Linked DNA regions of Homo sapiens. The protein of the gene in region 2 purifies or fractionates together with the protein of the main gene of each other region. This does not show direct contact. Each region holds a gene or a part of one and is shown on either strand. Other genes may lie near its edges.

Region 1 (7,527 bases), on a different chromosome or scaffold from region 2:
CTGAGGCAGAAGAATCGCTTGAACCTGGGAGGCAGAGTTTGCAGTGAGCCAAGATCGTACCACTGCTCTCCAGCCTGGGCAACAGAGCAAGACTTCATCTCAAAAAAAAAAAAAAAAAAGGCTGGGCGTGGTGGCTCGTAATCCCAGCACTTTGGGAGGCCAAGGCGGGCAGATCACCTGAGGTCAGGCGTTTGAGACCAGCCTGGCCAACATGGCGAAACCCCAACTCTACTAAAAATACAAAACCAGCCGAGCATGGTGGTTCATGCCTATATTCCCAGCTACCCAGGAGGCTGAGGCAGGAGAATTGCCTGAACCCAGGAGGTGAAGGTTGCAGTGAGCCAAGATTGTGCCGTCGCACTCCAGCCTTGGCAAGAGCGAAACTCTCTCAAAGAAAAGAAAAAGAGAAAAGAAAAAAACCCAACCACGTAAAGTGTTTACCAGGGCACCTAGCACACAGTAAGAGCTCAATAAATACTAGCTGTTGTTATTCCTATTATTGTTAATCACCCCTATGACTATCACTATTATTTATTCACTCAACAGATATTTACTGAGCACCTACTATGTGTCCCATATTATTCTGAGGATACAGTAGTGAACAAGATCACATAGGGCCAGGCACAGTGACTCACGCCTATAATCCCAGCACCTTGGGAGGCTGAGACAGGAGGATCATTTCAGGCCACGAGTTCAAAACCAACCTTGGCAACATAGCGAGACCCTACCTCTACAAAAAATTTAAGAATTGGCTGGGCATGGTGGCACACACCTGAGTCCCAGCTATTTGGGAGGCTGGGGCCAGAGGATCCCTTGAGCCCAGGAGTTTGAGGCTGCAGTGAGCTATGATTGCACCAGAGTACTCCAGCGTGGGTGACAGAGACCTTGTCTCTAAAAAAAAGGGGGGGGAGGGCCGGGTGTGGGTGTGATGGCTCACACCCGTAATCCCAGCACTTTGGGAGGCTGAAGGTGGAGGACTGCTTGAGCAAGTGAGTTTGAGACCAGCCTGGGCAACATGGTGAAACCTTATCTCTACAAAAAATACAAAAATTAGCCAGGTGTGGTGGCATATGCCTGTGGTCCCAGCTACTTGGGAGGCTGAGGCGGGAGGATCGCTTGAGCCCAGGAAGTTCAAGGCTGCAGTGAGCTATGATCACACCACTATACTACTCCAGCCTGGGTGACAGAGCGAGACCCTTTCTCAAAAAAAAAAAAAAAAAAAAAAAAAAAAAAGGATCAATATGGGCCCAACATTCAGGAAACTGACATGAGAGTGAGGAGAAAGATAAACTAGTAAAAAATTAATTTACATGAAAATCTCAGACAGTGATATGTCTGTATAGATTCTAAGAGACCAGAGGAATGAGACTGTAGCTACAGGGAGATTCTGCAGGAGTCGGAAGGCGCCTTGAGGAGGGTGCACAAGACGGGGAGCAGGTATAGGGATGAGCTGGTAGGTTAGACTCTGGAGAAGACAGGACTTAGAGGAGAGAGCTCCTGGGAGGTACCTGGTCCTACCTCTCTCTTGGCCCAGCCGTGGGGGCTGAGCCTCCTCAGGGACCCCTTCTGGGGGTCCGGCAGGTGACACAGGGCGGCTGGGCTGGGGGGTGCCCCCAGGACTGGGCTCTGTGCCCTTTTGCAGGGAACCTTCCGAATGGAAACTCTGGTTGCTGTTCTCATCTGCGGGAGCAAGAGCCGAGATGGTTGGCCTGAGATCCCTAGTACACTCCTTCAGTCCCCACAGCCCCCCGCGTTTCAGGATCCCTACCTACCATTAAGATCCAGCAGGATGAGAGGGCCACCCCCTCGGGGACTGGCGCCCCTGCCCCGACGTTCCCGGCCACGGGATCTCTCTGCCCCGCCACCTGCCCGCCTTCGCTCCTGGGGGTTAGAGGATTAGGGTCAGAGCTCTTGGAAAGCCCCACCATACACCTAAGGAAACTGAGGCACTGAGAAGCAAAAGGGCTCAAACTCAGGGGGTGTGGAGCAGAAAAGAGGGCAAAAGGGGAGGAGCTGCTAATGATGGTTCCCGTCTGTCCTGCTGCATCTGAGGTCTCGGGGAGCTGGAGGTAGAGGTCAGCGTGGGGAGGAACTTGCCTGAGGTTGCACAGATGCAGGGCCTTGTGGGAATGGGGGTTGCTCACCTCCTCCTGGGGATCCACCACTGGCACCCACTTGAAGATACGAAGGGAAGTGTCGCCCACAGTCACCCATCGCTTCTCCCTGTGGGAGGGTGGGGGGCTGGGTCAGAGAGGCCTGAGGGGAGACCCACCCCCCTAGGAGCTGGACACATCTGGGGGTACCTGCAGAGGTTGAGGAGGCACAGGAGGATAGCAACAGTTTTGCTAATGGGGCATAGTTACATGGAGGAAGAGAGTCCTGCAAACCCCAGGGCATAGGCGGTGGGTGCCTCTAGAGAGAGGATATGATTTGGGGCCCTGGCTCTGCGGACCCCTGGGGCACACATGGGGGGCGTGGCTATGGGCCTGGCCCGGGATCAGAGCCCTGCAGATCCTGGGGCGCACCTGCAGGAGGGGTGTCAAAGCTTTAGGGGGCGGGGCACAAGAGGGGGCTCCCGCTCTGGGAGGACACGGCTGGGGATCACGCTTTGTAGACCCCCAGGAGTAGCCAGGCGAACGGGGACAGAGCCCTGTGGATCCAGGGCAAAGCTAGTGGGTGGAGATACACCGAACACCCGGGGCCCAGAGCTGGCGAGGGCAGCGTAGACGCCTTTGGTGCTGGTGGTCCCGCTGTGTCCCGTCCCTGGCCCCCGAGCAGCGCTCACCATCTCCGGACCTTCTCGATGGTCGCCATCACCTTCTTGATGTCATCCTTGGCCCGGCTCCGGGTCTCGGCCCGTACAGTCCGGCCGGCCATGCTGGCGGGGCTGGGGCCGGGGCCGAGCCCGCGGCGGGGCCGCCTCCCGTCCGGCGGGCTCAGGCTCCGCGCCAGGCCCGGGCGCCGCGCTCTCGGCCTGCCGTCCCCCCTGGAGTTGGCCGCGCCCTCTCTCGTCCCCAACGCCTCCGCAAGTCCCCGCCCCGTTTCCTGCCGCCGCGCCCCGCCCCGGCCTGTCCCCGGAGCGGCCCGGTGGCGCGGGCGGCCAGAGCCCAGGCCTGGAAGCCCGGCCGGCCCCGCCCCGACCCGGGCCCGCCCCCTTGGAGCGCCTGGACGCTCAGCGCCCCCTGCCCGCCGCCGAGAGCGGGAGTTGGGGACGGACGCGCGAGTTGGGGACGGAGAGCGGGAGTTGCGACCGGACGCGCGAGGCAGGGCCGAGGCCGTGTGTTCAGACCACGTGGGCGCGGGGTGCGCGACAGGGTCTGTGTCCTGCGCTGCGTGAGCCGCGGTGGGTGTCCGCGAAACGCTGTGTGTGGAGTGCGTGCGTGTGTCCGCCCTCGCCAGGCTGTTGGTCTACACCGCCCAACTTACTCAGTCATCCATTCATTCAACAGTCTTGTTAACTGAGTGCCAATTACGCTCCAGGCGCTGCGAATACGAGTGGGTCTCCACCACCAGAATGGCTAAAGTGAAAAAGACCGCACCGTGTGGAGGCGAGAAAGTAGAGCGACTGGACCTCTCTTGTATTTCTGGGGGAGTGTAAATTGGTAGAGACATTTTGGAAAACTGGCAGTTTTCTAATGAAGCCGAACATATGCCACCTCTGTGATCCAGCAGTTCCACTCCTAGGCTGTCAACACCCAGCAGAAATGTGTAGGTGTGAGCATCAAGAGGGTGCATGGGAATGTTCAGAGCCCTTTCATAACAGCCCCAAACTGGAAATAACCCATCAACAGAATGGAAAATGAATGATGCCCTACTCACTACCATGCACATAGACACAGCAACGGGATTGACATGCCCGGCTACACACAGCAACATAGACAAGTCGCATGATGAAATCTTGAGTGACAGAAGCCAAATGCAACAGTACATACTAGATGGTTCCAGGTGTATTACGTTCAGAACCAGACAAAACTAATTTATAGTGCACCAAAGTCAAGATAGTGATCGCCCTTAGGGTTGGGAGGGGACGAGGGGAGAGCTTCTGGGAGCTGATCCAGTTCTGTTGTGTAATCTGGTGCTGGTTCCCTGGGCATATGTATTCTGTGAAAATCCATCACATGACTTAAATAAAATGTACATTACTTAAATAAAATGAGTGTGTCTTTGTTGACTTTATTTGAGGCTGGCTTGTCAGCAGATAAGACCATGTCAAAATTTGTGCTGCTGTTGTGTGTGTGTGTGTGTTTCAAGGTGTGGCTGTTGTGTCTGTGAATTTGGGCGTGACCATGTCCAGAGGTTAAGGGTATAAGGGGTTAGGAGCATGGTTAAGACAGCATTTTTTTGAGCCAAGCTGCTTAGGTAAAATCCCAGTTGTGCCACACCTAACTGTGTTACCCTGGACAAGTCACTTCTCTCTATTCCGCATCTATAACACAGGAGTTAGTTAATGTGCATATGGCTCTTAGAACAGTGCCCAGCACATGGTAAATGCCCAATAAATATTTACAGTTAATACACATGTGATTGTGGGCCCTACCAATTGTCTGGCTCAATTCTATCTGCTGTGCCCTCTCCAGTTAAACTCTTTCTTCTTTTATTCCAGCAATTGCTCACGGCAATACACACACCCACTCACACGAACACACGCACACACATGCACGCGCACATGCACACACGCGCACACCTGCACACTCACACGCACACAAATCCACTCGCACACACGCATGCTCACACGCACACACGTCCGCATGCACGCACACACGCAGACACACGCAAGCGCACACACACACGGGCCTCCTCGTCTTCATTCACAAACCCCATTAGCTTCTGTTGTCTATGGGCTTCCTCGACAGACCGCGAGCCCCTCGCGGGGGCCAGAAACCAAGTATGGATCATCCCTATGTGCCTTCCTTTCCGTCTACACCAGGTTAATGGGGTTGACGTATGGGTGTGACTTCCTGTCCAGGTCTCTGTAGCTTGTTCTCCTGGGGGTGGGGGGCGGGGTGTGATTGTTACTAGGCCTGCTAAGAAGAGGAGAGCAGTGTATCTGTCTCCCTCCTGGTGGGTGTGACAATGAGATTGGAAGCCATCTAAGATAGGCCAGGAGATGTATGTCTGGACAAACATGCCCCAAGCCTGACGGCCCCCATCGTAGCCTCCCTCGCAAGCCGCGCCCCAGACTAGAGAGAGGGCCTGCGCATTCCTGTCCTGCCAGTCCGGCAGTTCCCTCTCCTGTCTCCTCAGCTTTACACCCAAAGCAGCCGCTGCCTCAGGTCCAAGCCTGAGCCCGCGGCAGAACATTGGGCTGCCTCCCAGGCCCTGACACCCCCAGCCCCGAGGTCCTGTCCACCCGGCAGACAACTTGCCTTCCCCCTCGGGCCCCTTCCCCCACTAGGCCCCACGGACGAGGAGCTGAGCTCAGGGCCAAGGAATCCTGTCTCAAAAGGGGGGGTAGGATGAAATGTTTGGGGTCTGGGCTCTGATTGGCTGCGCCCGGGCCACGCCCCCAGCCCTTTCCCCTTTCTCCCCCCTCGAAAGGGGGGCGTGAAGGGAGCCGGGATCAGCCAGGGGCCAGCATGAGCCGGAGGGAGGGAAGTCTGGGTAAGGGGCTGAGGGACCGGACGCCGGGTCGCTGAGGGGCGCAGGAGTCAGAGGGATTGGGAGCTGGGGGTCTGGGTTTCCGCCACCCCCGGGTCCGGGAGGGGAGCGGCCTTGGCGGGGAAGGGCAGGGCTCCGGTGTCAGGTAACGAGTGAGCGGGTGAGTTGTGAGAAACAGCAGGCGCTAGGGTTTAGAGGAGGCCTGGGGCTGAGGTTTCAGGGACCTGGGCTCAGGGCTTAGATCACCGGTTCGAGTACACCCAGGGGGAGGACTGGGGTCGGGGCTGGGGCAGGACCCCTGCGTCCACTGAGTCTCGGGAAAGAATCAGAGCTGGGGGGCTGAAGGAAGGGGTAGAGTAAGGGAAGGCAGTCTTGGAGTCACAGGAAGTAGTGAGTGACAACAGGAGACGAAAGTCTGGGCTGCTGAGGATCGCGACTGGTGCTGGGAAACTTCGGGGGTGGGGCGGGGGCGGGGCACCGGGTCAGGACTACATTCCCCAGCACGCATCGGGCGCGCGCTGTGCGTTTCGGGAAATGGAGTCCCTCCCGGGGCGCCAGACACTGGCTCTTGCGGACCTTGATTCGCTGACTAGCCAGGCCAGCGCCTTGCATGGATGGGGCATCAGGGAGAGAAATGGAAATGGAAGTCAGTCTCCCTATCTGTAAAATGGGCCTTCAAGGCACATTTTGATATGAAGTTCTGTACTTCGATGATGTTGAAGTCCACTAGCAGTCACTGAGGTAGAAATATGTAAGCCCTGTCTTCAAAGGGCTCTCAGGCTAAGGCAGATACACACAGAAAAGCCGTTAAAAGAGCTACCCTGGAACTCATGCAAATGGCCTTAAGTCAAAGGAAGGAGTTCGTTTATAAAGGAGAAGTGATTCTGGAGGCTTCACTGAGGAGGCAGTACAGTCATGCACTGCATAACAACATTTGGTCAACAGGTGGACCGCACAGACAATGGAGGTCCCATAAGATTCTATGCATTTTTAGCCTGGGCAACATGGCGAAACCCTGTCTCTACAAAAAAATACAAAAATTAACCGGGCATGGTGGCGCATGCCTGTAGTCCCAGCTACACAGGAGACCCAGGCGGGAGGATCGCTTGAGCCCAGGAGGTCGAGGCTGCAGTGAGCCAAGATTGCACCACTGCACCCCATCCTGGGCGAAAGAGCAAGACTCCGTCTCTCTCTCTCTCTCTCTTTCTCTTTTGGGATGGAGTCTTTCTCTGTTGCCAGGCTGGAGTGCAGTGGCCTTGGCTCACTGCAACCTCTGCCTCCTGGGTTCAAGCAATTCTCCTGCCTCAGCCTCCCAAGTAGCTGGGACTACAGGCGTGTGCCACCAAGTCCAGCTAATTTTTTTTTTTTTGTATTTTTAGTAGAGATGAGGTTTCATCATGTTGGCTAGGATGGTATTGATCTCTTGACCTCGTGATCCACCTGCCTCAGCCCTCCAAAGTGCTAGGATTACAGGCGTGAGCCACTGCGCCTGGACAATTTTTTTTTTTTTTTTTGAGACGAAGTCTCGGTCTGTCACCCAGGCTGGAGTGCAGTGACCTGATCTCAGCTCAATGCAACCTCCTCCTCCCAGGTTCAAGCGATTCTCATGCCTCAGGCCCCCTGGTAGCTGGGATTACAGGCACCCACCATCATGCCTGACTAATTTTTGTATTTTTAGTAGAGACAGGGTTTCACCAGATGGTCCCGAACTCCTGACTTCAAGTGATCCGCCCGCCTCATCCTCCCAAAGTGTGGGATTAAAGGCGTGAACCACTGAGCCCAATGCCTGGCTAATTTTTGTATTTTTAGTAGAAACGGGGTTTCACCATGTTGGCCAGGCTGGTCTCAAACTCCTGACCTCAAGTGATCTGCCCATCTCGGGCTCCCAAAGTGCTGGGATTACAGGCGTGAGCCACCACGCCTAACCGA
Region 2 (7,023 bases):
GGAGGGGAATAAAGCCTGAAGGGAGAAGGAATTCATAACTGACTGTTGGCTGGCTTCATTCCAACCACTTTCTTTTCTGCTGGTGACAGCTGTTTTCCTCTTCTGATTTAGAAGGTTTGGAATAAATCCCTCCCTGCCACACCTCCCCGAGCTCAGCCACAAACTGATCCAACAGCAGGCTTCTGGTCTGGTGACTACAGAACATACACAGGAGGGAAGTCTGCAAGGCACAGTCTGCTGTCTGTCTGTGCTGCCTCACCTGTTTGCTTCCTGGGCTGAGTCTACAAAATTGTAAGGTATCAGAGTAGGCACAAGCTCTGGGTGGTGTCCAATTCAGGTTTTCATTTAAGTTTCCCATACAGAATAACTAAACACATAATTTCCTACTACTTCTTCCTTTATTATAAACTATTTCTACTAAGCAGTTCCTGAAATCCTATCTCTACTGGGAAGCTTCCAGGAATGGGAAGATCTACTTCTACTCTGGCTGCCTCTGTACCATCTTGCAGGCCGATTTATGTGGCAGAAACCTTGCTGAAAGCCAAAGTTATTTCTAACTTTTGACAGTCTAGTGGGTTATATACTGTTACATACTGTTTGTATTTTACAAATAATGAAATTAAGGTTCAGAGTGGTTACACACCTTAAGGTCATATATGTTATAAGTGGCCAAGAAGGGATTCAAAACCAGGTCCATCTCTCCAAATCCTGTCTTTGCTACTATGCCAAATTGCCTCCCATGGAATCAGAATGCCCACAGACTTTCCCTAGCTTTACACCTCAGTGGGACCATAGATACACGGTAAACTTACTGCTAATACCTCATACTACCAGGGAGGTCTCTGCTTCCTGCCTTATCTTCTGGGAAACCTGTGCTCCCCGGTCTATCAATATTAGACTCAGAAAGCGGGAGAGGGGATGATGTCCCTGTGGGATGCATGGTACCACATGAAGCCAGTGAGTACCTAGAAAGGGGTTTGTGGAAACCACAGGGGCAGTCAAGTGTCAGGCGCCCACTCACCTGAGTCAATCCACCAATCTCCTTCACAGACACATAGAGGCGATAGAGGTCCAGAGGTTTCCTACCCACAGCAGGCAGATTTGTCATGCCCATGGCCTTCTCCTCAGTGAAGGCCAGATAACGGTCCACCCACATCTTCCTCTCAGGCTCACCACCCAGCTCATACAACTTGGTGATCTTCTCATTGGTTGTAGTAGAAGAACTGGATTTCTGGAAGGTTCAGGTCAAAATTCATAGGAATGGGTCAGATTCAAAGCCTGTGCTAAGGGTCTCAGAAGTCTCTTGACTGGAGCAGTGTTAAAGCTTCTTACTCTGGGGTGGTTACTAACACCTGTCCTACCTTCATAAGGTTGAAGGGCCAAAAGAGAACCAAATTTTTTTTTCCTATAAAGGAAGGAAGCTAACACTAAATATATGTTATGTACTGGGTGCTGTGCTAGATGCCTTTATATATTAGGTATTATAAAATTATCCCCATTTGTAAAGATAAGGAAGCAGGCACCAGGAGGCAAAGCCTAAGATCTCACAGCTTTTAAGTGGCAGGCTGAGTATCAAATCCTTGTCCACCTGACATCAAAGCCACTACTGCTCCCACACTACTACCCAGGAGCCTGAACATACTTAGGTACTATGTTTTAGAGAAATCGAAAAACTCACAACATGATCTTGAGGCAATGGGATGGACTAAAATGAAAAGAAACTCTTTGCCTCTTCTAAACAAAGGAAAGGTTTCCCACCTGGTTGAAGGGCTTTGGATATTATCCTGTACAAGACAGGAACGTGGTCAAAAGGGCTGGGAGCCAGAGGTGAAGACTCACAGGAATTAACAGCTATGATTTTTATTTTCCCTATGTATACAGATAGGGAAAGTGAGGTATGGCCAAGGACAGAAATATTACAAATGACCCAAATGCTGAGTAGGACCCTTTACTACCGCACAGCCTAACAGTACACCCAGGACCAACCTAAGGGAAGCCAAGGACTCAAGCCTCATCTGCCTTATCTCCTTCTTTACAGAACACAGGGTACCATTCCTGCTGCTATGAGTAAGGTTCAGGAAGAGAAGAGCAACTAGTTGCCCATGGCACACCCCATCTATCAATGCTTGAGTATAGGAGGCACGGTTTCACAGAGGGCACCAGCCAAACAGTACAGAGAGTTTGATGCTGCAGTGTCTGGCATTTCCCCCATAACAAACAGCTGTGAGAATATTATGTTATTTACCAGGATCCCTTAGACCAACCCAGACCCAACTCACTGAGCTATTATTCTGGGACCTTTCATGATAAGAGGAGGCAACAGCAGCTTTTTCAGAGACTATCTAGTCCGGTGTCATAAAAGGCTGGGATCTTGTCACTCTCTTTTCTTTTTCCTTCCTATCACTGAAAAAGATAGGACACAAAGTTGAAAGGAGTCAAGACAAAAATCACTACCTTGGATTTGGATTCTGTCTTGGGTGTCCCATCTGCCTTGTTGTTCATTTTGGTGGCTGGAGTTAACTTTACATCCCCAAGGCCCATCATCTCTGGGCTGGCTGCCATCCCTGTAAAAGAGAAAAAAATTCTCAAGTCCAGTAAGTTTAGCTGTGATGTGACTCTTGAAGAAATCCCTAGTGAGAATGACTAGCACTTACCTGCAGAATTGTTGGCCATGGTTCCACCCATGGAATATGGGGGTCCCTGAGGGTTGATCATGCCAGCCATACTATTAATCCCTTGTCCATAAGGAGGTCCAGTTCCCATCATGCCCCCTTGATTCATATTGGGGTAGCCTGGCGGCCTAAGGAAGAAGATGGAAAGTGAGAGAGACAAAGGTTAGACTCTGAGCTTTTAGATTTGAACTGGAGCCAAATAGTGCTGTGTGATCATCTAGTAAGGATTAAAAGGAAAACATTTATGGGTCCCCAAAACTAGAACTATGCAACATCCAGATATTATTTTTCTTTAATTTATTTTCTTGAGACAGGGTATTGCTCTGGCACCCTGGCTGGAATGCAGTGGTGTGATCATAGCTTACTGCAGCCTTAATCTCCTGAGCTCAAACAATCTGCCTTCCTCAGCCTCCTGAGTGCCTAAGACTATGAGGCATGCACCACCATGTCCAGCTAACACCCAGATTTTCTTTTTTTTTTTTTTGAGACAGAGTTTCACTCTTGTTGCCCAGGCTGGAGTGCAATGGTGAAATCTCGGCTCACTGCAATCTCAGCCTCCCAGGTTCAAGCAATTCTCCTTTCTCAGCCTCCCAAATAGCTGGGATTACAGGCATGTACCACCACACCCGGCTAATGTTGTATTTTTAGTAGAGATGGGCTTTCTCCATGTTGGTCAGGCTGGTCTCGAACTCCTGACTTCAGGTGATCCACCTGCCTCGGCTTCCCAAAATGCTGGAATTACAGGCATGAGCCACCGAGCCCGGCCAACACCCAGATTTTCTTATCTTCTACCTCCCACGAAAGATACTAAGAGAGTTCAAGCTCTAGATAGCAAACAATAGTTCAATTTTTTTTTTTTTTGAGATGGAGTCTCGCTCTGTTGCCCAGGCTGGAGAGCAGTGGCGCGATCTCAGCTCACTGCAAGCTCCGCCTCCCGGGTTCACGCCATTCTCCTGCCTCAGCCTCCCAAGTAGCTGGGACTACAGGCACCTGCCACCACGCCCGGCTAATTTTTTGTACTTTATTAGTAGAGACAGGGTTTCACCGTATTAGCCAGGATGGTCTCGATGTCCTGACCTCGTTATCCGCCTGCCTCAGCCTCCCAAAATGCTGGGATTACAGGGGTGAGCCACCATGCCCGGCCAATTTTTTTTTGAGATGGAGTTTCACTCATCTCCCAGGCTGGAGTGCAATGGCATGATCTCGGCTCACTGCAACCTCCGCCTCCCAGGTTCAAGCCATTCTGCCTCAGCCTCGTGAGTAGCTGGGATTACAGGCGCCCACCACCATGCCTGGCTATTTTTTTGTATTTTTAGTAGAGATGGGGTTTTGCCATGCTGGGCAGGCTGGTCTTGAACTTCTGACCTCAGGTGATCCACCTGCCTCAGCCTCCCAAAGTGCTAGGATTACAGGAGTGAGCCACCGCACCCGGCCACAATAGCTCAATTTCAAAGGGTGTAATTCTTTGAAGCAGAGCCCTGCTGTGTCCTTTAAGTACTGCCTTCCTCAAAGCCACCTCCAAAGTCAAGTTGTATTTCCATTTAAGGGCCCTGTCTGTGGCAAAAGGCATAGATGAAATGCTGAACTGTACCACTTTTTGTCATGCTAAATCCCAACCAGACTGGAACCCTCAGCATAGCACCCAGAGGTGGCTTTGCATTATTTCTTGAGGGGCCCAATGCAAACTTTGCACTTCCATCATTCTGAAGTTCTACCAAATCCACCTCTTTATAGTCAATCGCCCTATTCTACCTTGGTTCATCAACAACAACTCAGTAAGATTTAGTGGCTAAAGAAGTTGTTAAACCTAATCACATGAGCCTTCTGTACTCTAGCACCAGAGTCAACACGTAGGACCACATAAAACAGTAGGAGAAATGGCAAACCACAAGCTTACCATTTGCTATTTCTAACACCAAAGATCCAAGACATATGTATCATTAAGAATCCTTTTGGAAACCAAAAAGTTGACTGATAGAAGTTAAACCACCTACTCTGAACACTTATTTTGCACATCAAAATAAGCAGTCTTTAGCCCTGGCAACACACTGAGACCCCATCTCTATTTAAAAAAAAAAAAAAAAGGCCGGGCATGGTGGATCATGCCTGTAATCCCAGCACTTTCAGAGGCCAAGGCAGGCAGCTCACTGGAGGTCAGGATTTTGAGACCAGCCTGGCTAACATGGTGAAACCCAGTCTAAAAATATAAAAATTAGCAGGGCATGGTGGCGGGTGCCTGTAACACCAGCTACTTGGGAGGCTGAGGCAGGACAATTGGTTGAACCTGGAAAGCAGAGGTGGCAGTGAGCTGAAAGTGTGCCATTACACTCCAGCTTGGGCAACAGAGTGAGACAGTCTCTAAATAAATAAATAAATATAAAAAATAAAAAAAATTAGCTGGGTGTGGTGGTGTGTGCCTGTAGTCCCAACTACTCAGAAGGCTGAGGTGGGAGGATCACTTGAGCCTGGGAGGTCGAGGCTGCAGTGAACTGTGGTCATGCCACTGCAATTCAGCCTGGGGAACAGAGCAGGGTCCTGTCTCAAAAGACCCCAAAATAAAACACCCCACAAAACCCCTTTTTTCGACAGTCTCGCTCTGTCGCCCAGGCTGGAGTGTGGTGGCGCAGTCTTGGCTCACTGCAACCTCTTCCTCCTGGGTTCAAGTGATTCTCCTGCCTCAGCCTCCCGATAGCCGGGATTACAGGCGTGCGCCACCACACCCAGCTAATTTTTGTATTTTTAGTACAGACGGGGTTTCACCATGTTGATCAGGCTGGTCTTGATTTCTGACCTCATGATCTGCCCGCCTTGGCCTCCCAAAGTGCTAGGATTACAGGCATGAGCCGCCACGCCCGGCCAAAAACCTGTCTTTTATAAAGCTCATTACATATGATGTTTAGTCACGTGAAATTTCAGACCCATCTAAGGTATGTAAGAATTAACACTTCATACACACACACCCATTTTCCCCCCCTGGTTTAGGTCCAGAAGCATCTCAATAATCTGAGTGGGTCTATAATACATTTTCTTGCACTGACACCCTCTCTGCTTCCCAGGCCTTACCTGTTTTGGATAGAGTTGGCAGCAACATGCATGGCGACAGCAGTTTCTTGGGTTTTCCGGTTCATGCCCCCTGGTGGGGGACACATCCCTGACCCAACCTGAGGTGGCATATTGGCCATGTTAGGGCCATAAGGCCGGTTGCCCATGGAGGCGTGACTCATCCTCCCTGGAGGGAGTGTGCCATAAGGTGGGATGCCAGGCTGTCCATGCATTTGACCTCCGGCACCCATGGGGTTTATGCCTCCAGCCATGCCTGCACTGGGGTAGTTGGCATTGGGCAAGGCATTATAGTTTGGCTGCCTGGGGTAGCCACCTGGGAGGGGAGGAAGACAAGACTTGGTTAGTCACTCACTAGCAACTCACTAATATCTCTCAACTCTAGAACACCAAACAATGTCATTCAATATTTTGGTTAGGAAAGAGATCAACTTCATGGTAGCCTTTATCGCCATGAGAAAAAGGGGGGGATTCCAGAAGCATGTAAAGGCAGGTCAGAGCAAGGCTGGCTTTGCTGCCACACAGGCATTTCAACTTCCAGAAGAAGATAACTTCCTTTCTATTTCCATGCTCTGTGTAAGATTCTCAACTTTTGATCAGCCTAGGGCTGCAATTTTGAGCAAAGATCTATTCCATTATGACTTATTCACTAAAAATAATTAATAAAAAAATAATAACCAAGAGCTACCATGTATAAATTGTCTGTGCTCAATGGTGGAGTAAACACCTAATCTCCATTTTTATAAATGAAACAGAGGCTCAGTGAAATTGAAAGACTTTCTCATGGTGACAGAATAAGTGGAGACAAATGGAATCTTGCCTTGCCCTACTTCAGGGCCTGGGCTGGGTGGATTAAAGGCAAAGGACAGCCCTTCTCTCACAAGGTTACAAGCTAGATGGCAACATATCAGACAAGGAACTGTTTTCTCCTCTCACCCGTATCTACTCCTAACTGGGTAGTATACTGACCTTGTGGGCCATACTGACCCCCCTGGGGACCATAGCTCCCCATGGAGTTCTGCTGGTAGGAGCCCATGCCTGTGTGTATCTGTCCTCCGGAAGGCTGACGCGGAGATAAGGCTGAGCCGGGCTGGGGGGAACTGTACTGGGGCATCTGGGGGTTCCTCTGCATATAACCTATTTGTGGGTAGCATCCATATAGTTATTAGCTTTATACAATGCGAACAAATGCTCTCCATCCTTATCCTGGGACTTTACCATCTACATTTTCTTTAGCAGCCACTTGCATGGAGTCTCTATCTGATTTTCTATATAGTGGTGTGTCATTTTA

What was found.
Region 1: the proteins of ARID1A (region 2) and BCL7C purify together in Homo sapiens (affinity purification with mass spectrometry; 6 studies listed by BioGRID and IntAct, with this or other methods). This does not show direct contact.

Annotation. Positions count from the first base shown.
Region 1 is NC_000016.10:30,891,068-30,898,594, forward strand, and holds the start of BCL7C (B-cell CLL/lymphoma 7 protein family member C), read right to left. Parts: upstream 3,011-7,527; 5' UTR 2,878-3,010; coding exon 2,786-2,877; intron 2,224-2,785; coding exon 2,145-2,223; intron 1,882-2,144; coding exon 1,773-1,881; intron 1,681-1,772; coding exon 1,519-1,680; coding exon of another isoform or gene 1,509-1,518; intron 1-1,508. Other genes in the region: CTF1 (cardiotrophin-1), read left to right, coding at 4,837-4,927. UniProt on the Homo sapiens protein: May play an anti-apoptotic role.
Region 2 is NC_000001.11:26,761,998-26,769,020, reverse strand, and holds part of ARID1A (AT-rich interactive domain-containing protein 1A), read right to left. Parts: intron 6,870-7,023; coding exon 6,702-6,869; intron 6,049-6,701; coding exon 5,736-6,048; intron 2,801-5,735; coding exon 2,655-2,800; intron 2,565-2,654; coding exon 2,455-2,564; intron 1,232-2,454; coding exon 1,022-1,231; intron 1-1,021. UniProt on the Homo sapiens protein: Involved in transcriptional activation and repression of select genes by chromatin remodeling (alteration of DNA-nucleosome topology).